Homo sapiens: one gene and its partners. The protein of the gene in region 1 purifies or fractionates together with the protein of each later gene. This does not show direct contact. Each region holds a gene or a part of one and is shown in the gene's direction. Other genes may lie near its edges. The genes, in order: RLN1, LMLN, SUSD1, SEL1L3, ITGA4, ART5 and ECE1.

Region 1 (4,040 bases):
TTCTCAAACTGTGTGTTTTAGTGAAAATCCATTTAAAATCATTAATTGCCTCTAACCATCTCATAGCTTTGGTCAGGTATTTTTTGAAGAATTACACATTGCTTGGCATTTGACCAATGTTAAGTGGGCCTACTGAAATCACCAGCAATCTAGAAATTAGAATTACTTGATTCCATAGTTATGTTTGTAACTAAGAGATTGTTATTATTTTATTTCAAAGCTACCATAACGTCCTGCATGTCTCCAGTTTATCTGATGGAGCTGAACTAATCTGAGTATATTATGAACACAAGCAAGTAAGTTATTTTTAAAAATGAACCTATTTGTACTAAAAATTTACAGGTAGAAGGGTCGTCTACTAACCATATTATCTAGAACTGTGTGGATCTTTAAAATGCTAAATTAGGTGGTGGTAATAAAAAAAGAATCACCTCTAACCAGGTGCAGCAAACACAAAATACAGTAAACAAATGAACATATCCTTGTGCTGTAATTTGTTATCAAAATATTATTTCTGGGAATGTGGGATGTCCACTGCTTTTTTTCCCCTTCTTCTTTCTCTTCTTCTTTTCTCTCTCTCTTTCTCTCTCTCTGTGTGTGTGGTGTGTTCTCCAGTCTCCAGAGACATAGACTAGAATTTTAAATTAAAATATTTAGACAACTAGTTACAATCAAACTTCTCCCACAGGAGTGGAAGGAAAGTCCAATGGAGAAATTGTTTTGTAAATTAAAGACATTACTGCACAAGCCTAAAATGATGTTACTGGGGATTTTAATCTTTTTACCTGGATTCAGATTAAAAGTCATCAGTTTTCCCTCTCATCAACAATTTATTCATTCATCCATTATATTTTTATGGATTGATATGCCCAACATTATACTAATTAATCCAATTTATAAGGTAATCTATAATCCTATTTAGGTTAGAAGGGTTTTTGGCAAATGTTCACTCTGGAAAACTGGGTTGTAAGAATATTGGCGATCTCAATTTTATTTCTGTGTATGTAAAAAGAAAGGCTTCATATCTAAAATAACTTTACCTAAGTATACAAAGTTGTTTCAGGGTAACAAAAGAGCGAAAAACAAAACTGTAAAAGGGCCAAGGACAGAGGAATGGGCAAATGAAGGAAGGGCGGAGAGGCAGAACAAGAGCTGAAGGAGAAAATTCTGTGGAGGGGTGTGGGAAAGGGGTGGAGCTGGCAACCTTGCCTTAAAAGCTGAGTGATAGCCCATACTAAAGACTGGTTGAGCCGGGTAGGGAAAGCAGCCTAAAGCCCGGGACAGGCACACAGGCCCAGGTGTGTAGGCCACAGCAGCCGCAGTCCTGAAAGGCTGCAACACCCAGACCTCCAGGAGAGACCAGGCCCAGGATGCCTCGCCTGTTCTTGTTCCACCTGCTAGAATTCTGTTTACTACTGAACCAATTTTCCAGAGCAGTCGCGGCCAAATGGAAGGACGATGTTATTAAATTATGCGGCCGCGAATTAGTTCGCGCGCAGATTGCCATTTGCGGCATGAGCACCTGGAGCAAAAGGTCTCTGAGCCAGGAAGATGCTCCTCAGACACCTAGACCAGTGGCAGGTGAGAGCTCCCGCCCCCTCCCGGCCTTCCCGCGCTTCCCATTGGTTACTCTGGGGCGGCCGCCCAATTGGAACGGCGGCCTGCACGTCCGACTCGAGATCTCATTGGCTGCCACCGCTCAGCCCCTACTCAGCCGTGGCTGGTCCCTAAAGTTTGGGCTTTTCCTTTGCCAGGTGATTTTATTCAAACAGTCTCACTGGGAATCTCACCGGACGGAGGGAAAGCACTGAGAACAGGAAGCTGCTTCACCCGAGAGTTCCTTGGTGCCCTTTCCGTAAGGCAGTCAGAGCGACGGGGTGGAAAGGGAGGGGAAGCCTCAGAGGAGGTGACGCCGCCCGGAGACCCGCAGGAGGCCGGGCGCACTCCTGCACCCCACAGGAAAGCCAGGCGGCCAGACAGCGGGCGTGCTGGTGGGGGCACCTGAACAGGGCTTCTCGGATAGAGAGGAGAGGGGACAAACACTGAGGCGGCGCGCTAGTTATCAAGCCTGTTTGCGCGCCTGTAGGACGGGGCAACACTCTGAGGTCTCTGTGAGGGTCCCGTGATGGGAAGACAGGAAGGGCCTTACACTTAATGACTCTCCTAGTCCAGAAGTTGGGCTGTGGCCTTTGCCATTGGAAACGTTCTTTAAAATAAACAAACAGAAAATCCCAAAGGAAAGAGTCTGACCTCCCGCTTCTTTGATCTGGGTATTGAAGTTCATTTGTGAGGCAGGGGATGGAAGAGAAAGGAAAGGCTTGAATGCCTTTAGGAGAAACTCAAGAGGACCAGAGACAAGGAAAGCAGGCCGTTCAGACCATCATAGCTGAAGACCCTACTGATGCTTTCAAGCATTTGGAAGCTGCAGTGGGTTTGCTTTAAAGGCAAGCTCTTAGAGTTGAGTACAGCTCAATCTGAAATGGCTTTTAAAAATATTTTAGTATTTATAAAGTAGCAGTGGAAACTCATGGAGGTATATACTAGTCTAAGAAGTGTAACGGGTCATATTAAATTCAGAGAAAGTAACCGCAGTTGCAAATACTAAGTGTTTTGTATTAGTATGACATGTAATTTATGATAAACCGCAACTAAATTTTATAGGCTATATGCATATACTATATATAAATGACTCTAACAGAAATACATTTACTTCTCTTTTATGAGATTTAAAGTATGCTTCTAAAGTTATTTACTTTTCTACATTGTTAGAGTTTGATTTATTTAATGGCAGTTTTTACATGACTTTTGTATAACATTAGTACAAAAATACCACAACGTCTAGGAATTTAGTGATAAAAAGTAGAGAAGACCGGATTGCATTGCATTTGCTTTATTATTCCACATTTTCTGACTATAAAAGTAGTAATGCTCATATTAAAGACAAATGTACATTAATGCAGCGTGAAAAATGAGAAGCACTCGTAGATATTAAGGACTTTGAAAAGTATATGTGAATTTTATGAGAAAATGAAATTATATTAAACAAGTAAGTGGAAAGAAATGTTAACATTTGGATAGGTATATGTATATATCTTTTGCATTTTCACTCACCATTATACTTTGAGCAGTTTCTCACATTGTTATTATCCCAAAACATAATTTGAAATTCCTGTGTAGTATTTTTGTCATAAATCTGCCACATAAACTTAAAGATTCTTTGGTGGATATTTAGTTTATTTCTAAATTGTTGCTGAAAATCATTAATCACATTTGTATATAGATATTTAGCTACACTTTTATTTCTTTAGAAGAGACATGAGATTTCAAAGTATTTTTAAAGAATTTTCTTTATTGCTATGCAGTATAATTTAACTGAAAGTAACCTCAGAAAATATTGCCTGCACGTGGGATTAAGATAAATGTTTACCGTTACTAGGTAGGAATCGCTTTGGAAGTACATGTCAGTAATTTGTGATTAATATGAGTTTTCAGACTTATACTGTTAGGTAATTGCTACTTGCTTTCACGTTATTACACTGTTAGATAACCATTTTATCTTACAATGTGTGCCAAAGTAATATTCACTGCATCCCTTTTAAAAATAAGATCCGCTTTAAACCAGAGATCTATTTCAGTAAGATTTGCATCCAAAATACAGTGAATTAAGGGTATTTGCATGAATTCAGACAGAATATTTTCTCTGAGCCTAGGTTCCATAGCTAAAAGTGTTATGGATTATGAAATATTTCAAAACAGGTTTAAAAATATAATTTTAATAAAAGTTCAAAACACACAGCCTATGAATAAACTGAATACAATCTATAACTGTTTTGGCTGATTCATTTAACTGGCTTTAAGTATACAGAAAATTACCATCAGCTTTTTTCAGCATTTAATAAGACTGCAACTACAGACAGTTTAGGTTGGAGCACAGAGACGTTTTTATGAGGAAATTGAATTAAACTTAGGATGTCTTAATGAGGGAAAATGCCAAAACCTGTCATTTAACCAAAAATGATATAAATTCTCATCTGTCATTT
Region 2 (3,500 bases), on another chromosome or scaffold:
TTTTTGCTTTAAATATTTATTTGTCTCCAAAGAAATTAACAGAAGAAAAGAAGTGTGTATAATTGTGTTGAGGATTCCCAAGACCACTCCAGGTTTGGTGATTGCTAGGTGGCCTCGCTAGATTCAGCTTGTCGTCATACTCACAGCTGAGATTTATTACAGTGAAGGCATACAAAGTAAAATCAGCAAAGGGAAAAGGATCATGGGACAAAGACTAGAGGAAATTAGGCAAAAACTTCCAAGAGTCCTCTCCTAGTAGAGTCACTTAGGACCTGCTTAATTCCTTCAGCAGTGAGTTGTGACAGCGTGCACAAAGTGTGGTCTACCAGGGAAGATTACCTGATTCTTAGAGTCCAGGGTTTTTATTGGAGGCTGGTCACGTAGACAAAATTTCAGCCACTGAAATTTCAGACTCCAGAAGCAAGCAAATGTTCAACATAAACCATATTGTTTCTGCAAATAGTTTAGACACAATGAGCCATCCTTATAACCTAGTGAAGTTTTAAATTACACTTCTAGATGCCAGCAAAAGGTCAACCTTGCAAGCAGGACTTCCTACAGAGAGCAGCAATCTCTGACCTGCTGTGTTGACTCTTCTGCACAATAGTCTTTCATATCTATTCACGTATTTACCATTTCCAATAGCTTTTATTTCTTCCTACAGAAACAGGTTACCCTTTTGTGTTATTTCCATTCCCACGAATAACTTCTTTTAGCATTTCCTGTAGTGTAGGTCTGCTGGTGATCAGTTTTCTCAGATGTATGTGAAATGTCTTTATTTCCTCTTCATTTTTGAAGGGTACTTTCATTGGATATAGACTTCTGTGTTGAATTTCTTTATTTTAGCCCTTTCCTGTTTATTTCATTGTCTTCTGTTCTTTATTGTTCTTCACAGAAAGTCAATGCCATTCGTACTTCTCTTCCCTTCCTATGTATAATGTTGTATTAGTTCTCACACTGCTATAAAGATACTACCTGAGACTGGGTAATTTATAAAGGAAAGTGGTTTACAGTTCCACATGGCTGGGGAGGCCTCAGGAAACTTACAATCATGGTGGAAGATGAAGGAGAAGCAAGGACCTTCTTTACATGGTGGCAGGAGAGAGAAGTACAAGCAGGGGAAATGCCAGAGGCTTGCTTATAAAACCATCAGATCTTGTGAGAACTCACTATCATGAGAACAGCATGGGGAAACACCCCCATGATCCAGTCACCTCCTTCCCTTGACATGTGGGATTACAATTTAAGATGCAATTTGGCTGGGGATGCAGAGCCAAACCATATAAAATGTGTTGTTTTTCTCTCATTGCTTTCAATATTTTATCTTTATTTTTAGATGTCACAAGTTTGCCTATGATGTACCTGGTTGTTGTTTGTTTGTTTTTGGGGACAAAGTCTCACTCTGTTGCCCAGGCTGGAGTGCAGTGGCACGATCTTGGCTCACTGAAACCTCCGCCTCCCGGGTTCAAGTGATTCTCATGCCTCAGCTTCCTGAGGAGCTGGGATTACAGGCATGAACCACCACGCCCAGCCTTGTTTGTTTTTTATCCTGCTTGAGGTTTAGTGAACTTCTTGGATCTGTAAGTTGATGTCTTTCACCAAATTTGAAATTTTTTAGCTGTTATTTCTTTCAAATATATATTCTGTCTCATATTTTCTCCTGTCCTTATAGGACTCTAATTACCTATCTGCTAGACTGCTTGGTACCCATTCTCTGAGTCTCTGTTCTTTTTTTTTTTTTTTTTTTTTTTTAGTCTTTTTCATTTCTCTTCTTCGGATTGGATAATGTCTAGATCTATCTTCAAGTTCACTGATGCTTCTGCCATCTCCAATCTTCTTTTAATTCTTTCTAGTGAATTTTTTTTTTTGAGACTGTCTTGCTCTGTCACCCAGGCTGTAGGGTGATGGTGCAGTCTTGGCTCACTGCAACCACCGTCTCCCGAGTTCAAGCAGTTCTCCTGCCTCAGCCTCTGGAGTGCTGGGATTACAGGTGTGCACCACCACGCCTGGCTAATTTTTGTATTTTTAGTGGAGACAGGGTCTCACCATGTTGGCCAGGCTGGTCTGGAACTCCTGACCTCAAGTGATCCACCCACCTCAGCCTCCCAAAGTGCTGGGATTACAGGCATGAGCCACCGTGTCCGGCCCCAATGAATTTTTCATTTTAATTGTTATACTTTTAAGCTCTAGAATTTCCATTTGGCTCTTTTTTCTTTGGTTCTTTTCATAGTGTCTCTTCTGAGGTTCACTATCTGCTTACTCATTATGTGTATGTTTTCTTTTAAGTTCCTGAACACATTTCAGCTGCATTAAACTAGTTGTTTAAATTCAGGTCCTCTTAGGGTCTGTTTCTATTCCCTGCTTTTTCCCCCATTGTGGATCTCATTTTCCCATTTTGTTCTCATTGCTGCTGATTTTTTATTAAATAATGGACACCATAGATAATATATTGTAAAGTCTGGATTCTGTTGTATTTCTCTGAATAATTTTTTTTTTTTTGTAGCTGGCGTTTAACTTAACTGTATTCAAAATTCCAAACTCTTATCTCCTGTTGTTGGCAACATTTATTCTTTGCTGGGTTTTATCGCATACATATGTAATTTCGTTGTCAGCCAAGGAATTTAGTGGTCAGTCAAATATTTGACTGGGTTTCATATGCAGATTTTGGGGTACCTTCTGTGGCTTCTTCTCTTGCAAGATTTCCTCTCTAACTTCTAATTTTCTGGTGATACAAGTTCTGAACATTTTGCTGTAGCTCCTCAAGCCAGTGAGGCTCTGACTTCCTGCCACTCCAAGAGACACAGATTAGGTAGTGCTCTCAAGCCAAAGTTAGACTTGCAAATCTCAGAGATACAATTCCTGTATTCCAAGAGTAGATTCTTCCAGATTCTGTCTTTCTCCCTCCCCAAAATACTGTCAGACAGTATATTTTGTCCGGACTTTGTAATGTGTTATCTGTGGGGAGGTTAGTCATGTAATGGATTGCTAAAATGTACCATATCCATTTGCTGTGCTCAGACATTTCTGATTTTTTTTTTTTTTTGAGACGGAGTCTTGCTCTGTTGCCCAGGCTGGAGTGCAGTGACAAAATCTCGGCTCACTGCAAGCTCCACCTCCTGGGTTCTAGCAATTCTCCTGCCTCACCCTCCCAAGTAGCTGGGACTACAGGCGCCTGCCACCATGCCCGGCTAATTTTTTTGTATTTTTAGTAGAGATGGGGTTTCACCATGTTAGCCAGGATGGTCTCAGTCTCCTGACCTTGTGATCTGCCTGCCTCGGCCTCCCAAAGTCCCAAAGTGCTGGGATTACAGGCGTGAGCCACCGTGTCTGGCCTCTGATGGTTTTTTAAGGGCCATAAAATAATCTGTTACCTGGAGATAGGTTGGAATGGAATGAGTAAAATACTGGAAGTAGGGTGTCAGGCCATCATAGCAGAGCAGGCAATACGTATTGTGAAAATCTGTGACTGTTACTATGTTATATTAATAGATCAAACGTAG
Region 3 (3,007 bases), about 110 Mb from region 1:
GTAGGGTAACCAAAGGATGGTGAGGCTATAAAAAATACAATTCAAATTTGCCAGTTGTAAATTTTCTTATTAAGGAATTAATGAGGAAAGTCTCTAAAGAAGCTTGTGTGGCAACACTTGTGAGCACTCTTGATTAGATTGACTCAGATTTTTAGAGTATATATGCAAAGTAGACAAAAAGACATATAACCAGGAACTGATCTACCAGCAAGAATCATTCCTGGAGCCAAACCCAAATTGTGCTATGCAGAATAAATAAAGATCATTTTCCAATACTATGTCTAGAGTAAGGAATAGTTGTGCCCAGGTAGATCCTGCTGGTGGATGGTCAAGTGAAAGTCAGCTTCCTTAACTCCTACTTAGCTTTTGTCCTCTTCGTTTGTGAGGGGATAGTTAGAAGAAAGAAAAGAGCTTGCTACCCTACATAGGTTCAAGTCTTCCAACATGGATGTAGCGTATTCTGGCAGGTTCATACAATTTTCACATGAGATGGATAAACCATTGCAAATGATCTTCAATAAACCTTGAAGAAAATGGAGAGATGTAAGAGGACTAGAGATGAGCAAAGAACAAGGAACTTTGTACAAAGGAAGAACCACCAGAAGTGTAGATGATGGTAACTTGAAGTCAAGGCAAAGCAAGGTCTTCAAGTGATGGCTTGTGTATCCCTGGTAGAAAAAACAGCAGTTCCCGGGAGTCAGGAGCTTTAAGAGCAGATTAGGTCAGATTGCTTTCCATTTCTTCTTGCACAGAGTCAGTAATTGGTCAGGGAAATATGGCACGCATAATAACAATAATGTCCTTGTGGACAATGTGGGGACATGAGAGCTGTATGTGGGCTTAGAAACAAGCTGAATGGCTATGCACAGTTGATATCAACTCATTAACAATTATTGATGAGTTGAAATCAAACCCAAGAATATGCATGATATGGATTTCTGTCCACAGTCATCTTCAGTTCAACATATTCATCAATCAGTGATTAAAATATACAGAGGGTTAAAGTGTAGAGGAAAAAATACACAGAAAAAAACTTGATGTCAGAAGTTGGAAGGAATACTGGGTAGATCGGATGAAATGCCAGTGCAGTAAAGTACCAGCTCCCCCGTTCATCTCCAGAATTGTATTTTCTCTTAAAAACAAAACAAAACAAAACAAATCTAGTTAATTAGTCCACCAAGATGGCATTTAAAAAAATGTTTCTGAGTCATGCACAAAGATGGCATCTTAATGCCTTAATTTGCATTTTTATTACTTGTAAGAGAGCATTTGCTCAAAGTTTTATTGATCATCTGTAATCATGTTTTTCATGTGATTTACCTTTTCGTAGAATTTTCTCATTTCGCTATTGAGGTATGTCTTTATTAATCTGTAACACTCTCTGTATGTTAACTTCTTGCCCATTATTCTAGATATTTTATCCAGCTTGCCATTTGCCTTTTAATCTTGCTTATGGTAGTTTTTGGTATAAGAAGTGCATGCTTTTTAAAGTGGTTAAATCTCTCATTCTCTTAAGGTTTCTGTGTTAACGAATATGCTTAGAAATTTCTTACCCCCTTTAATATTAGGTAAATATTCACTAACATTTCCTAATCCTTTTAGGTTTCAATTTAAGTCTGTAATCCATCTGGATTTTATTTTGATATATGGTGTAAGCTCTAGTGATCAAAATTATTTGATTCTAAATGGTTAGCCAATTTTCTCAGCACTGGTTATGAAAAATTTATCATTTCCCCAATGATCTGAAACAGTATCAAAACAACAAAAACAATAATAATTAACAATAGCTAACATTTGCTTATTGCTTATTCTGTGCCAGGCACTGTTTCAACCTGTACTAACTCACTGACTTCTCCCACTACCTAGAGGTGGGTAGTATTGCTATCATTCCCATGTTATTACAGCATCCCTCAGTGTGGGGACTGAGACACAGAATGGATGAATAACTTGCACAAAGTCACACAGGCAGTGGTGGTGTTCAGATAAAGACTTGGACATCTGACTCCAGTATTCAAACTTTGAAAGTATTTGATATGCTTGGATTTGTTTCTAGGCTATTTTGTTCCAATGTATTCATTCCTATTCTAATACTGCACTGTTTTACTGTCTTGCAATTCAAGTCACTCTCCTAATATTTTTTCTTTACTAATTCTTCACTTAATCACTGTTTCTCCTTCCATTTTATAATCTAGTTTCTTGGCTGGGCATGGTGGCTCATGCCTATAATTCTAGCACTTTGGGAGGCCAAGATGGGCAGATCGCCTGAGGTCAAGAGTTCGAGACCAGCCTGGCCAACATGGTGAAGCCCTGTCTCTACTAAAATACAAAAACTAGCCGGGCGTGGTGGAGTACACCTGTAGTCCCAGCTACTAGGGAGACTGGGGCAGGAGAATCGCTTGAATCCGGGAGGTGGAGGTTGCAGTGAGCCGAGATCATGCCACTGCACTCCAGCCTGGGTGACAGAGCAAGACTCTGTCTCAAAAAATAATAATAAATAAAAATAAAATAAAACAAAATAAGTAATCTAGCTTCTTAAAGTGTCAAGGCCATTTTTCTTCTATAGACTAAAAGCAACCAAATAATATAAGCCATGTTTTCTAGAAAGGCTCTTGGCAGCATTTTTTGAGAATTAGTAACCGCCCAATGAGTTTTCCTTGCCTGCTGCCTAGACAGAGCTGATTTATCAAGACAGAGGAATTGCAATAAAGAGCTTAATTCACACAGAGCCAACTGTATGGGAGACTGGAGTTTTATTATTACTCAAATCAGTCTCCCTGAAAATTCAGGGATGGGGTTTTTAAGGATTACTTAGTGGGTAGGGGGTAGGGGATGGGGGGGTCAGTGAGTCAGAAGTGCTGATTGGTTGGGTTGGAGATGAAATCACAGAGTCGAAGCTGTCCTCTTGCACTGAGTCAATTTCTGGTTGGGGGCCACAAGATCAGATGAACCAGTTTATGGATCTGGGTGATGCCAGCCGATCCATGGAGTGCAGGGTCTGGAAAATATC
Region 4 (3,500 bases), on another chromosome or scaffold:
TGTGAGTTTGACTACTCTAGGTGCTTCATGTAGGCGGATGATATAATGTCTGTTCTCTTGTGTCTAGCTTGTTTTCCTTAGCCTCATCTCCTCAAAGTTCATCCATTTTACAGCATACATCAGAATTTCATTCCCTTTTATGGGCTGAATAATATTCCATCCCATGTATATACCACATTTTTTCTACCCATTCATCCATGGATGGACCCTTGGGGTTGCTTTTGGCTAGCGTGAGTAATGCTGTTATGAACACGGGTGTACAAACATCTCTTCAAGTCCTTGCTTTAAATTTTTGGGGTGTATATCCAGAAGTGGAATTGCTGGGTCTGATCATACCATAATTCTTTTTTGAGATGGAGTCTCACTCTGTTGCCCAGGGTGGAGTGCAGTGGTGTGATCTTGGCTCACTGCAACCTCCACCTCCCGGGTTCAAGTGATTCTCCTGCCTCAGCCTCCCAAGGAGCTGGAATTACAGGTGTGCACCACCTTGCCCAACTGATTTTTGTATTATTAGTAAAGACAGGGTTTCACCATGTTGACCAGGCTGGTCTTGAACTCCTGACCTCAAGTGATCCACCCACCTGGGCCTCCCAAAGTTATGGGATTGAAGGCATGAGCCACCACGCCCAGTCTGATCATATGATAATTCTGTGTCTAATTTATTTGAGGAACTGCTATACTATTTTCCATAGTAGCCACACCATTTTACATTCTCATTAAGAGTGCATAAGGGTTCCAGTTTCTCCACATCTTCACCAACACTTGTTATTTTCTCTCTGTGTGTATGCGTTGTGTGTGTTTAATAATAGCCACCCTAATGGATATGCAGTGGTCCAAAGTGACCTTTTTCTATTGTGTTTTGGATACTTGAATCACAAAGTCATATTTAGGAGAGCTCTTAGCACTCACATATCAGCACCTCATGCTCAAAACCTTGCATTGATTTCATGACCAGATAAATAAACATTCAGCTAAAATCCTTCTTGGTGCATGTAGCATTGTCTGTGGTGAAAGAATCAGACAACACAGCCCATCGTCTGAGCTTACTTGTGTGTGACCAGGAGCAATAGAAGCCTCTTGCCTGTCCATATATCATGCAGGCTTGCCCTGGCTTCAAACTTATGGGAGAAAAAGGGGCCAGGTTGGCATCCCTGTTATGTTCCCTCGAGGGTGCACTTTTCACTTTTCTGCCACCCTTTGATTTGGTAGTGTCTGACCCACCATTTAAAGTCAGGACAATGGTTTGAAAATGTCTGAAGCTGCATTGTCTCTGTTTTATTCTAAGGCAGGTTCCCTTGCTACTGGATTTGTTGTGAACCAACTTCTGCCTTTGAAAACCAACTCTGGAATTATTGCCATGTAGATGTGACAGTCACATTCTGATCAGCAGATGTTACTGTGTCTGGGGAGAGAGTTTAATGTGGCCTCATCTTCCTTTGTATTTGTGTGTTGGTTTTTCCCCAATTCTTCAGTAGTGGTTTTGACATCTTTTATCTCCCGCATTCATTCATTGCTTTATGTAGATTGATATTTTTTTATCCCAGGAAAATAATGATTCAAGTATCTGTTATGATGAGGATTTTTAAACTTTCTGTATTTCTTACTTTCTTTTTCTTTTTTTCAGAATGTTGTACCATCTTTGGGTAGGCAGACTTCCCTGACGACATCAGTGATACCCAAAGCTGAGCAGAGCGTGGCTTACAAAGACTTTATTTATTTTACTGTCTTTGAAGGAAACGTTCGCAACGTTTCTGAAGTCTCGGTTGAGTATTTATGCTCTCAGCCTTGTGTTGTCAATTTGGAAGCAGTTGTTTCATCTGAGTTCAGAAGTAGCATTCCCGTGTACAAAAAAAGGTGGAAGAATGAGAAACATCTTCACACCAGCAGGACACAAATAGTACATGTGAAATTTCCAAGCATTATGGTTTACAGAGATGATTATTTCATCAGACATTCCATCTCTGTATCTGCAGTGATAGTACGCGCCTGGATTACTCACAAATACAGTGGCAGAGACTGGAATGTTAAATGGGAGGAAAACTTGCTCCATGCTGTAGCAAAGAATTATACCCTCCTGCAGACCATCCCGCCTTTTGAACGCCCTTTCAAAGATCATCAAGTGTGCCTTGAGTGGAACATGGGTTATATTTGGAACCTTCGGGCAAACAGGATTCCACAGTGTCCTCTGGAAAATGGTAGGTCATCTATCTTGCTAGGAACCTAATTCTCATTTTTTCAGATAGCCTGTATCATGATCGAATGGCAAGAGAAAATTCTTCTATTAGCGAAGGGGGATACAGGGAAGATGGAGGGACACAATGAGTCTGTAACTTTGGAGTTTGAAGACAAAAGGAGAAAAATTAAAAGGGGAAGAGAGGAGAAAGATTAGGAGAGAGCAGGACCAAAGATGAAAGAACAGAACAGAGGAGCTGAGGAAGGTGGACTTTGAGAGGGTTAGATCTGCTTTAAGCTGGAAAGGAGTATTCATGCCACCGAAACAAGGATTGGGAAAATCTTCCCACTCACCTTCCAACAAGCCTGCTAAAGTTTCCTCTTTTTTTTTTTTTTTTTTTTTTGAGATGGAGTCTTGTTCTGTTGCCCAGGCTGGAGTGCAGTGGCGAGATCTCACTCGGCTCACTGCAACCTCCGCCTCCCAGGTTCAAGCAATTCTCCTGCCTCAGCCTCCCGAGTAGCTGGGATTACAGGCACCCACCACCATGCCAGGCTAATTTTTGTATTTTTAGTAGAGATGGGGTTTCACCATGTTGGCCAGGCTGGTCTCAAACTCCTGACCTCAGGCGATCTGCCTGCCTTAGCCTCCCAAAATGCTGGGATTACAGGTGTGAGCCACCATGCCGGGGCCTCTATTATTTTTAAGCAGAGTGTTTTATCCTGGAGGAGATGAGAACCTAAAGGAACCCTTCCAACAGAAAGGGAGGTTGTACCACAGAATGGTAACCTCTGGCTGGGCCTGATTCCTGTCCTGCCACTTTCTATCTCTGTAACCTTGGAAGTCTCTGAGCCTCAGTTTTCCTATCTGTAAAATGGGGATAACAAGCAGTTCCTTCAGAGCAGTGCTGTGAGGACTAAATGAGATGTGATTGCTCAGCACATCATCAGCACTCAGTGAGAAGCTGTGATGATGATAGAGTCCACACTCTGCATTTTATCCTAAATGCCACATGGTCACAGCCTCAGCAGGACCAATCCCGGAGGCTCCAAGGCCCTTCTGCAGCCTCCCTTAAGCCGTGGGGCTGGAGATCTCAGGCATGTGCTGAGAGGCGGCACTCTGAAGTTCTCTCCATTGGTGCAAGGAGCGCCTTGCTCTGTGGATGCCGAGTGCCTGCCAGCTCTTCTTCTGCCCCCTCAGTGGGGAGCCCTCCCCACACATGCGCCCAGTTGTTTCCTCAACTGTGGCCCTAGGACCACCTGTGACAGAATCACAAATGCTTGTTGCAAATGCAAATTCCTAGGCCCAGTCCTTCATCTACTTAGTCAGG
Region 5 (3,500 bases), on another chromosome or scaffold:
AGTTCATCCACTGATTTTATATTTGAATTCTATAATGTATTTAATTTAGAAAGAAATAAAAAGCCCAAATAAGATAGATTCAATATGCGGTGGTGGGGTGGAGAACAATGGTAAATGGTAACTTACCTCTTTCTGTAGTCTAATATTTAAATCAAGTTATTTGCAAGGTAGCTGTTTAATCAAAGGATTTCAATAAAATGATACTATATAAATTAATACCAAGACCACACTTTGGGAACCAAAGGAGGCACTGCAGTTAATTTTAAGTGGTGAAATAAATTGGGGAAGGTAAATTGTGAAAACCTCTAGCTAGAAGGTAAAGATCCTGATAAATTATGTCTTTATGAAATAAACCAGGCTATGGTGATCCTTCTTTTATTAAACAGGATGAGACTTCAGCACTCAAGTTTGAAATAAGAGCAACAGGTTTTCCAGAGCCAAATCCAAGAGTAATTGAACTAAACAAGGATGAGAATGTTGCGCATGTAAGATTACCCTCTTAACTGCTACATTAAAATTATAGGAAAACACATTTCAAGGGTGTCTATAATTACTTCCTTCTGAGTAACTGAGTTGGGAAAGTAGAGTGTGACCAGCTCATGGAGGGCCCCCAATACTTGGTTGAGAGTTGGCATTTTCCACAACTGGCAGGAGGGAACAATACAGCAGTTCTTTCAGAGAGGTGAATTGGGCAGCAGTGAGAATTGAATAGATTGGAGGAAAAGTCATGGATACAGCCCATTACACTCACTGTTTCTGCTAAACAGTTACCAGTGTTTCCTGCAATTATATTAGAACCAGCAAGAAAATGGGCTGGGCAGTTCTAAATACTACTGGGGATTATGGCAGGGCTTTAAAGGAAATATAAGCAACGTTTTAAACTGATTTTTTTTTTTGGTTTTTGAGTTTTATTTTTCTTAACTCACGTAGGTTCTACTGGAAGGACTACATCATCAAAGACCCAAACGTTATTTCACCATAGTGATTATTTCAAGTAGCTTGCTACTTGGACTTATTGTACTTCTATTGATCTCATATGTTATGTGGAAGGTAAGCATTTAACAATTACCAACATTAGTCTACTAAAAATGACATTTTCTCAAAGCCAATTTGACTTCCAAGTTATTAGATTTAAATATTTCACTATTTGAATGTTAACTTTTTATGTTGCTCAGTACTGATCTCACATTTCTCTTCAACACCAAAGTCTTTCTAGAAAAATATGCATTCTTAATTTGTTTTGAAAGACAGACGTTCCTTTTAAAAAACCATTTGGAAAAGATTGCAAATTACACGGAATGTCAATTTTGGAGAGAATGTGGTGTGTATCACTGAGAATTTCTGCATTAAAAACAAAAATGTTTCTTTAACCCAGTATGTCCCCACTAATTTTTACTGATTACCTCTGTTAAACCTTTATGACTGATGTTACAAGGGATGCAGTTTAAGAAATATTGGTGTTAACTGCTTAGATATTAGAAATGAGTATAGTAGATAAGAGAGTGTTCATAACTATACACTAGTGATTATGTTATGCTATTTTCAGGCTGGCTTCTTTAAAAGACAATACAAATCTATCCTACAAGAAGAAAACAGAAGAGACAGTTGGAGTTATATCAACAGTAAAAGCAATGATGATTAAGGACTTCTTTCAAATTGAGAGAATGGAAAACAGACTCAGGTTGTAGTAAAGAAATTTAAAAGACACTGTTTACAAGAAAAAATGAATTTTGTTTGGACTTCTTTTACTCATGATCTTGTGACATATTATGTCTTCATGCAAGGGGAAAATCTCAGCAATGATTACTCTTTGAGATAGAAGAACTGCAAAGGTAATAATACAGCCAAAGATAATCTCTCAGCTTTTAAATGGGTAGAGAAACACTAAAGCATTCAATTTATTCAAGAAAAGTAAGCCCTTGAAGATATCTTGAAATGAAAGTATAACTGAGTTAAATTATACTGGAGAAGTCTTAGACTTGAAATACTACTTACCATATGTGCTTGCCTCAGTAAAATGAACCCCACTGGGTGGGCAGAGGTTCATTTCAAATACATCTTTGATACTTGTTCAAAATATGTTCTTTAAAAATATAATTTTTTAGAGAGCTGTTCCCAAATTTTCTAACGAGTGGACCATTATCACTTTAAAGCCCTTTATTTATAATACATTTCCTACGGGCTGTGTTCCAACAACCATTTTTTTTCAGCAGACTATGAATATTATAGTATTATAGGCCAAACTGGCAAACTTCAGACTGAACATGTACACTGGTTTGAGCTTAGTGAAATTACTTCTGGATAATTATTTTTTTATAATTATGGATTTCACCATCTTTCTTTCTGTATATATACATGTGTTTTTATGTAGGTATATATTTACCATTCTTCCTATCTATTCTTCCTATAACACACCTTTATCAAGCATACCCAGGAGTAATCTTCAAATCTTTTGTTATATTCTGAAACAAAAGATTGTGAGTGTTGCACTTTACCTGATACACGCTGATTTAGAAAATACAGAAACCATACCTCACTAATAACTTTAAAATCAAAGCTGTGCAAAGACTAGGGGGCCTATACTTCATATGTATTATGTACTATGTAAAATATTGACTATCACACAACTATTTCCTTGGATGTAATTCTTTGTTACCCTTTACAAGTATAAGTGTTACCTTACATGGAAACGAAGAAACAAAATTCATAAATTTAAATTCATAAATTTAGCTGAAAGATACTGATTCAATTTGTATACAGTGAATATAAATGAGACGACAGCAAAATTTTCATGAAATGTAAAATATTTTTATAGTTTGTTCATACTATATGAGGTTCTATTTTAAATGACTTTCTGGATTTTAAAAAATTTCTTTAAATACAATCATTTTTGTAATATTTATTTTATGCTTATGATCTAGATAATTGCAGAATATCATTTTATCTGACTCTGCCTTCATAAGAGAGCTGTGGCCGAATTTTGAACATCTGTTATAGGGAGTGATCAAATTAGAAGGCAATGTGGAAAAACAATTCTGGGAAAGATTTCTTTATATGAAGTCCCTGCCACTAGCCAGCCATCCTAATTGATGAAAGTTATCTGTTCACAGGCCTGCAGTGATGGTGAGGAATGTTCTGAGATTTGCGAAGGCATTTGAGTAGTGAAATGTAAGCACAAAACCTCCTGAACCCAGAGTGTGTATACACAGGAATAAACTTTATGACATTTATGTATTTTTAAAAAACTTTGTATCGTTATAAAAAGGCTAGTCATTCTTTCAGGAGAACATCTAGGATCATAGATGAAAAATCAAGCCCCGATTTAGAACTGTCTTCTCCAGGATGGTCTCTAAGGAAATTTACATTTGGTTCTTTCCTACTCAGAACTACTCAGAAACAACTATATATTTCAGGTTATCTGAGCACAGTGAAAGCAGAGTACTATGGTTGTCCAACACAGGCCTCTCAGATACAAGGGGAACACAATTACATATTGGGCT
Region 6 (4,186 bases), on another chromosome or scaffold:
CGCCCGGCTAATCTTTGTTGGCCAGGCTGGTCCCGAACTCCTGACCTCGTGATCCTCCCACTTCAGCCTCCCAAAGTGCTGGGATTACAGGCGGGAGCCACTGCGCCCTGCCCTGGAGCTGTTTTTCTAACAAGCACTCAGAAGCACCTCCCTCCCCACCCTCCTCCAAGCCTGGACCCACCGTATGTCTTCCCGTTTGGTCTACAGAAAGGATTCTGGGAGATAGCAGGATTCTAGGTGGAGGAAACTTTTTATTTGGCTGACACTCTGAGGGGATGGGGGGACAGGGATGGGGAAAATTAATGAGCCAGACCAGGATGGATTCCTTTGGGTAGCTCTAATCTTTCGTGCCCACCTCAGCCCCAGCAGGCAGCATTTCTCAAATCCTAGCTTTCGGCGACCCTCCGGCCGCTGGGGGAAGGAGGGGTGACAACCCCACCTCCTCCTGGCTCTGGCTGCTAGGAAGCTCTTCCCTGAGTTACCAATTCCTCCGCTGGCCCCTTCTCCCATGACCTCTGACGGGGCATCCAAAACTCAGAGCCAGGTTATTTATAGATAAGCCCAGAGGAGGTGGGGGAAAGGCCAGTGTTTACAAACATGGGTCACCTGAGTCTGAGCGGCCACGAGAGCGGTCTGGGGGAGGGGCGAGACCGGACCCTGTGGATCTGCGACCAAGGGCTCTGTCTCTGGCCCAACCCCACTGAAGGCGAATGGGGAGAGGGCCCAGAGCAGGCAGGGAGTGGGCGCTGCTCAGATGCTGGAGCACGTGGCCCAGGGTGTGGGCCAAATGCAAACTGTATGCAAATCGCAGTGCTCCGGGGGCGACCTCTCGGCCGGCGGGACCCCCGCGGGGCCCCTGGCCTGGTGGGCCGGGGACCAGGGGCCGACCGGGTCAGGGCCCGCCTGAGGGAGAGGCCGAGTCTCACAAGTTTCCTCCCCATCACTCACAGCCAAAGAGGGTCCCGCAGAAAGACCCCGCAGGCCTTGAGAAAGGGAATTGCTCCTCAGTCCCTGCCCTGGCGCGCCCGCTCCCGGCCCCGCGTGCGGCGCTGGGAAAGGGGTGTCGGGTTACCAGCGCGGGGGCTACAGTTAGCCTCGAGAACCTTTGCTTTCAGCCGGACTCCGGACTCCTCCGGGGACAGCGCAGCGCCCGCCAGAGCCCTCGGCGCTCCCTCCCGCTGGCGGCTTCCGCAGCCTTCAAGTGGGTCCTCCGCCCCCGGCCCTCCCCTCTCAGGCGGAGCCAAACTGCGGCCCCGCCTTTACAGTCTCGGAAAGGTCCCCAGACTGGAGGCTCTGAGGAAGGGGTGTGGGGAGTCGGGGGCGGAGACTTGGGGCGGGGGGCGGGCAATAAACTCCCAGGCCCCGCCCACGCCCCGCCGGGGCCCTAATCCTGGACCCGGGATCCCGTGCGCCTGGAGACAGGGTCCAGATCTGCCTCCAGCCCCTCGAAACCAGGACTCCAGCACCTCTGGTCCCGCCCTCACCCGGACCCCTGGCCCTCACGTCTCCTCCAGGGATGGCGCTGGCGGCTTTGATGATCGCCCTCGGCAGCCTCGGCCTCCACACCTGGCAGGTAACTCCAGGAACCATCTCCTAGCCCCAAGGGGGACATTAAGGGACAGACCCTGAGGAAGTGGACCCGGGGCTGACTCCTCACATCCCTCTCCCAGGGACTCTTCCCTAGGATTCCACTCTTAACTCTCTTCCTCTCAGGAACCTCCATCTCTGCAGGGAGCCCCAAGTTCCCATTCTGTCTCCTAGAACCCCCATCTCCATCCCTCTCTGGATGCCTCCAACGTTCTCCTCCCCACCTCTCATCTCCCAGCGCAGGCACAGCCCGGCAAAGCCTCCTTGGGTTACCTGTGTGCTGCAGTCCTGGCAGCCCGTCCCAACCAAGGCTTGGCCTCCCCACCACCCCTACCCCAAATGTGGGTACAGAGCAGGGGAGGACTCAGGCGTCTCAGAGCTCACAGTGATTTGGTGTGGTGGCTGAGCACCTACCTGCAAGGGCTTCCTGCTGGATGAGAGGGAAAGAGAGCCCGAGGAGAATGGGGCTGGGGGTTAGGCAGCTGGACACTGGCTGTGTGTAATATTTGCACATCACCTGCCTGCCAGATCTTACAGCCGGAAAAGTGCTTGATAGTCATCTAGTCCCACCTCCCACCGACTGCAAGAACCTTTCTAATGACAGGATGACCCCTTTTAGGTTGTACAGAAGTAATGCTCTTTATGCTGTCTTCATAATAACTGTGAGGTTGGAAGTATCCTCAAGTCCAGAAAAGTTATGACACTTGCCCAAGGCCTCACAGCTAATAGGTGGTAAAGTCAAGATTTCAGCCTGCGCGCGGTGGCTCACTCCTGTAATCCCAGCACTTTGGGAGGCTGAGGCTGGTGGATCACTTGAGGTCAGGAGTTCGAGACCAGCCTGACCAACATGGTGAAACCCTGTCTCTACTAAAAATACAAAAAATTAGCTGGGCGTGGTATTGCGCACCTGTAATCCTAGCTACTTGGGAGGCTGAGAGAGGAGAATTGCTTGAACCCGGGAGGCAGAGGTTGCAGTGAGCCAAGATCGTGCCATTGTACTCCGGCCTGGGCAACAGAGCGAGACTTCGTCTCAAAGAAACAAACACAAAAACAAATTAGCCAGGCATGGTGGCATGCACAGGTAATCCCAGTTAGTTGGGAGGCTGAGGTGGGAGAATCACTCCAACCTGGGAGGTGGCGCTTGCAGTGAGCCGAGATCTCACCACTGCACTCCAGCCTGGGCAACAGAGCAAGACTCCATCAAAAAAAAAAAAAAAAAAAAAAGATTTCAGTCCATGTCTGACTGACTCCAGTGCCTGTGTTATTTAAGCCTCTTATTGGGCCCTTGCCAAATTGCATATACCTGATATTTAGGGATAGAAATGAGATTCTGTGTTTCTGGATGGGTTTGCCCCCAGGACCCATGTCCAGTGCTCTGAACTTATGCTCTTTTCGGTGTGGCACCTCTTTTGCTCCACAGGCCCAGGCTGTTCCCATCCTGCCCCTGGGCCTGGCTCCAGACACCTTTGACGATACCTATGTGGGTTGTGCAGAGGAGATGGAGGAGAAGGCAGCCCCCCTGCTAAAGGAGGAAATGGCCCACCATGCCCTGCTGCGGGAATCCTGGGAGGCAGCCCAGGAGACCTGGGAGGACAAGCGTCGAGGGCTTACCTTGCCCCCTGGCTTCAAAGCCCAGAATGGAATAGCCATTATGGTCTACACCAACTCATCGAACACCTTGTACTGGGAGTTGAATCAGGCCGTGCGGACGGGCGGAGGCTCCCGGGAGCTCTACATGAGGCACTTTCCCTTCAAGGCCCTGCATTTCTACCTGATCCGGGCCCTGCAGCTGCTGCGAGGCAGTGGGGGCTGCAGCAGGGGACCTGGGGAGGTGGTGTTCCGAGGTGTGGGCAGCCTTCGCTTTGAACCCAAGAGGCTGGGAGACTCTGTCCGCTTGGGCCAGTTTGCCTCCAGCTCCCTGGATAAGGCAGTGGCCCACAGATTTGGTAATGCCACCCTCTTCTCTCTAACAACTTGCTTTGGGGCCCCTATACAGGCCTTCTCTGTCTTTCCCAAGGAGCGCGAGGTGCTGATTCCCCCCCATGAAGTCTTTTTGGTTACCAGATTCTCTCAGGATGGAGCCCAGAGCTTGGTGACTCTCTGGAGCTATAATCAGACCTGTAGCCATTTTAACTGCGCCTATCTGGGTGGTAAGCTGTGCATGGGGGAAGCAGGACTGGCAGTGTGGGTGAAATAAGCCAGGATGTCCTTACACAATAATCCCCGGGGCCTTCGGGAGACCCACTTGGTTAAAGGGGAAATGAGGGCTGGAAGTCAGCTGGAGTTGCTGTCCTCTGTGACTCAGGTTTTTTGGGGTCCTATAAGTGTTTTCTAGATTCGTGAACATTCTTAGATGATTCTATATGTCCTCAAAAGGGTCCATCTGCTACATGGTCTAATAGACCAAAAGAACCTGGTTAAGGAGATTAGCAAGCAGCAGAAAGAGCCAAGGGGACTGCTTCAGGTCTCAGGGGGGCCCTGGGCTCGATGGGGCTGACAGGGCACGTATGTGCCATTCCCAAGTGCTAAGGCAGGGAGAGATGGAAGAGTGACTGGGTCTTGGGTGGGAAGAGGGATGGAAAGGCAATCTGGAAAGAGT
Region 7 (3,500 bases), on another chromosome or scaffold:
CTGAGATCATGAGACTCATTCTGCTGCCTTTTCCTTGAGAATCATTTAAGATGCTCCAGAGTGTCATGACGCAAGATCCTTGGGCCTCTGGAGGCATCCTGGGCAGAGCCCAGGATCCATGTCCTGTCCCTGAGGCTCCAGCGTTTCACCAGAACCAGGGAGAATTTTGCACCTGTCAAGAGCTGAGCCAGGCGCAGTGGCTCATGCTTGTAATGCCAACACTTTGGGTGGCTGAGGTGGGGGGATTGATTGAGCTCAGGAGTTTAAGACCAGCCCGGGCAACATAGTGAGACCTCATCTCTACAAAAAATGTAAAGATTAGCTGGGCATGTTGGCATGTGCCTATAGTCCCAGCTACATGGGAGGCTGAGATGGGAAGATCACTTATGCTCAAGAAGACAAGGCTGCAGCAAGCTGTGATTGCACCACTGCACTCCAGCGTGGGCGACAGAGCAAGACCCTGTCTCAAAAAAGCAGAAAAAAAGCTAGAAAGCTGGGCCGAGTAGTGAAAAGGGTGTACAGTGATGCCCTTGACAGTTCAGATAGATTTCTACTTTACTTATGAGATCTAGTATGGTAGCTACTAGCCACAGGTGGCTATTTAAATAATTAAAACTTAAATTAGTTTAAATTAAATTTAAAAGCCACACTTGCCACATTTGAAATGCTTATTAGTGGCCGGGCGTGGTGGCTCACGCCTGTAATCCCAGCACTTTGGGATGCCAAGGTGGGCTGATCACCTGAGGTCAGGAGTTTGAAACCAGCCTGGCCAATGTGGTGAAACCCCGTCTTTACTAAAAATACAAAAATTAGCTGGGCTTGGTGGCATGCGCCTGTAATCCCAGCTACTCTGGGAGGCTGAGGCACGAGAATCACTTAAACCAGGAGGTGGAGGTTGCAGTGAGCCAAGATCGTGCCATTGCACTCCAGCCTGGATGATAGATCAAGATTCCCGTCTCAAAAAAAAAAGAAAGAAAGAAATGCTTAGTAGTCTGCCATACTGGACAGCGCAGGCATAGAGCACAGAACATCCATCATCGCAGGAGGTTCTATTGGACAACATGGGAGATATTTCTTGCCTGGGCCCAGGCACTGCTGTAGGCACATCCTGCAACGGTGTCATTCCATCTCGTGCCCCAGGGTGAAGGCCAAGAGAAGAGCTGACCCTGCAGCCCCAAGCCCTGCATTCCGGTCTCCAGCCTGCAGATTAATCTCTTAACCATGACAGCCCTTGGCTTCCTGTCTTGGAAGATGCACACCACCGAGGGCACACTGTGATTGACTCCACTTCTTCTTTTCTAGTACACTGCAGTTCCAGACCTCTACTTTGAAAATGCCATGCGGTTTTTCAACTTCTCATGGAGGGTCACTGCCGATCAGCTCAGGAAAGCCCCCAACAGAGATCAGTGAGTTCCCCCAGGCCCTGCCGGCAAGGTGCCAGCTCCCCACCTGTGGGCAAGCCTTGGGACGAACTGGCCTTCATTGCACCCTCACTGTGCACCCGATCAGCTATCACGAGAGCCGTCTGAAGAGTGGATGCCCTTGTTATCCCACTTTTCAGATGAAGAAACCAAGGGCAAAAGAAGTATGGCCCAGCTAGGAGCTGGGATGGGCTTGAGCCTGCCCAGCCTGTTGGCAGGGTGAGCCTGGCCTCTGGAGCGGAGCCGATCTGGCACCTTGTCTCCGCTCCACTGCTTTGGGATTTGGAGCCTTCATTTCATTTTCCGCAGAATAGGATGGGAGGAGCTGGTTCTGGGGTCCTCATGGCAGTCAAATGTGAGGACCTCTGGGGAGCGCCAGACCCCAAGGAGGCCCCAGCAAGAGCAGCTTTCCCATTGTTCCTCACTACCACGAATGGTGGGATCTCAGGACAGGGAGCCCACAGAGGCCTGGGGAAGGTTCTGGATGGGCTTGACAGCTGTGCTTCCCAAAGCTCACTGCACATCAGAGTCCTCTGGGGAACTTTTTCAAAGATACAGCTTCCTGGCCGGGCGTGGTGGCTCACGCCTGTAATCCCAGCACTTTGGGAGGGCAAGACAGGTGGATCACCTGAACCCAGGAGTTTGAGACCAGCCATGGTCAACATGGCAAAACCCTGTCTCTACTAAAAATACAAAAATTAACCGGGTGTGGTGGCGCACACCTGTAGTCCCAGCTACTCAGGAGTGAGTAGCTGAGGCACGAGAATTGCTTGAACCCGGGAGGCGGAGGTTGCAGTGAGCCGAGATCGTGCCACTGCACTCCAGTCTGGGTGACAGAGCAAGACTCCATCTCAAAAAAAAAAAAAAAATACAGCTTCCTGACCTTAAATCAGGATAACCTAGAATGAGACCTGGTCTTTGTCCTTTTTATTACTGTCTCCTCAGGTCAATCACAGTAGCTCAGGCCTGCAATCCCAGCACTTTGCAGGCTGAGGTGGGCAGATCGCTTGAGCCTAAGACTTCAAGACCAGGTTGGGCGACATAGGGAGATGTGGTCTCTACAAAAAATTTTTAAAATTAGCTGGACGTGGTGGCACGAACCTGTAGTCCCAGCTACTGGGGAGGCAGAGGTGGGAGGATCACTAGAGCCCAGGAGGTCGAAGCTGCAGTGAGTCAAGATCATGCCACTGTACTCCAGCCTGGGCAACAGAGCGAGACCCTGCCTGAAAAAAAAGAAAGAAAGAAAAAAAAAAACTGTCTCCTCAAAAAAATTAGATGTAGTCAGCCCAGTTCCAGTCTTCAGTCCAAGGTCCTTCCATTCCTCAGTGCAAACATTTGGGATAAATCTTAGGGAAGGGTGCAATCAACTTCTCTTTGCCTCTGGTGCCCCCTGGTGGACTATAGGGGTTCAAACATCTCTATTTCCTTCATTTCCAGCCTCCAACCAGGACACCCCGCTATGTACAAGAAGGTGGGCTTTTACCTTCAGAACATGGCATAGGCTCTGTTGCCAGTTTATCTGAAGTATTTTAACTTAGCTTGAATGTTTTTATTTAAATTTCCTTGCCTACCCATTGAAGTATTTGTGATTATTTGAATATAAATATGATGTTTTAAATTCCTCCATATGGCCAGGTACAGCGGCCCACGCCTGTAATTCGAACGCTTTGAGAGGCCAAGGTGGGAGGATCTCTTGAGCTCAGAAGTTTGAGACCAGCCTGGGCAACATGGTGAAACCCCATCTCTACAAAAAATTTAAAAAATTAGCTGGACGTGGTAGCATGCGCTTGAGCCCAGGAGGTTGAGGTTGCGGTGAGCTACAGTTGTACCACTGCACTCCAGCCTGGGCTACAGAGCAAGACCCTGTCTCTAAAATAAATAAATACATAAATAGAGTTCTTGGCCAGGTACGGGGGCTCACACCGGTAATCCCAGTACTTTGGGAGGCCAAGGCGGGTAGATCACTTGAGGTCAGGAGTTCAAGACCAATCTGGCCAACATGGTGAAATCCCGTCTCTACTAAATATACAAAAATTAGCCACGCATGGTGGTAGACACCTGTAATCCCAGCTACTTGGG

Evidence for each region.
Region 2: the proteins of RLN1 (region 1) and LMLN purify together in Homo sapiens (affinity purification with mass spectrometry; one large-scale study listed by BioGRID and IntAct). This does not show direct contact.
Region 3: the proteins of RLN1 (region 1) and SUSD1 purify together in Homo sapiens (affinity purification with mass spectrometry; one large-scale study listed by BioGRID and IntAct). This does not show direct contact.
Region 4: the proteins of RLN1 (region 1) and SEL1L3 purify together in Homo sapiens (affinity purification with mass spectrometry; one large-scale study listed by BioGRID and IntAct). This does not show direct contact.
Region 5: the proteins of RLN1 (region 1) and ITGA4 purify together in Homo sapiens (affinity purification with mass spectrometry; one large-scale study listed by BioGRID and IntAct). This does not show direct contact.
Region 6: the proteins of RLN1 (region 1) and ART5 purify together in Homo sapiens (affinity purification with mass spectrometry; one large-scale study listed by BioGRID and IntAct). This does not show direct contact.
Region 7: the proteins of RLN1 (region 1) and ECE1 purify together in Homo sapiens (affinity purification with mass spectrometry; one large-scale study listed by BioGRID and IntAct). This does not show direct contact.

What each region holds. Positions count from the first base shown.
Region 1 is NC_000009.12:5,337,077-5,341,116, reverse strand, and holds the start of RLN1 (prorelaxin H1 preproprotein), read left to right. Parts: upstream 1-1,240; 5' UTR 1,241-1,370; coding exon 1,371-1,581; intron 1,582-1,689; exon of another isoform or gene 1,690-1,754; coding exon of another isoform or gene 1,755-1,855; intron 1,856-4,040. UniProt on the Homo sapiens protein: Relaxin is an ovarian hormone that acts with estrogen to produce dilatation of the birth canal in many mammals. May be involved in remodeling of connective tissues during pregnancy, promoting growth of pubic ligaments and ripening of the cervix.
Region 2 is NC_000003.12:197,970,217-197,973,716, forward strand, and holds part of LMLN (leishmanolysin-like peptidase isoform 1 precursor), read left to right. Parts: intron 1-3,500. UniProt on the Homo sapiens protein: Metalloprotease.
Region 3 is NC_000009.12:112,043,291-112,046,297, reverse strand, and holds part of SUSD1 (sushi domain-containing protein 1 isoform 2 precursor), read left to right. Parts: intron 1-3,007.
Region 4 is NC_000004.12:25,845,989-25,849,488, reverse strand, and holds part of SEL1L3 (protein sel-1 homolog 3), read left to right. Parts: intron 1-1,624; coding exon 1,625-2,195; intron 2,196-3,500.
Region 5 is NC_000002.12:181,533,886-181,537,385, forward strand, and holds part of ITGA4 (integrin alpha-4 isoform 1 preproprotein), read left to right. Parts: intron 1-386; coding exon 387-485; intron 486-930; coding exon 931-1,050; intron 1,051-1,546; coding exon 1,547-1,642; 3' UTR 1,643-3,500. UniProt on the Homo sapiens protein: Integrins alpha-4/beta-1 (VLA-4) and alpha-4/beta-7 are receptors for fibronectin. They recognize one or more domains within the alternatively spliced CS-1 and CS-5 regions of fibronectin. They are also receptors for VCAM1.
Region 6 is NC_000011.10:3,639,193-3,643,378, reverse strand, and holds the start of ART5 (ecto-ADP-ribosyltransferase 5 isoform a precursor), read left to right. Parts: upstream 1-1,386; 5' UTR 1,387-1,516; coding exon 1,517-1,573; intron 1,574-3,007; coding exon 3,008-3,737; intron 3,738-4,186.
Region 7 is NC_000001.11:21,231,464-21,234,963, reverse strand, and holds part of ECE1 (endothelin-converting enzyme 1), read left to right. Parts: intron 1-1,302; coding exon 1,303-1,406; intron 1,407-3,500. UniProt on the Homo sapiens protein: Converts big endothelin-1 to endothelin-1.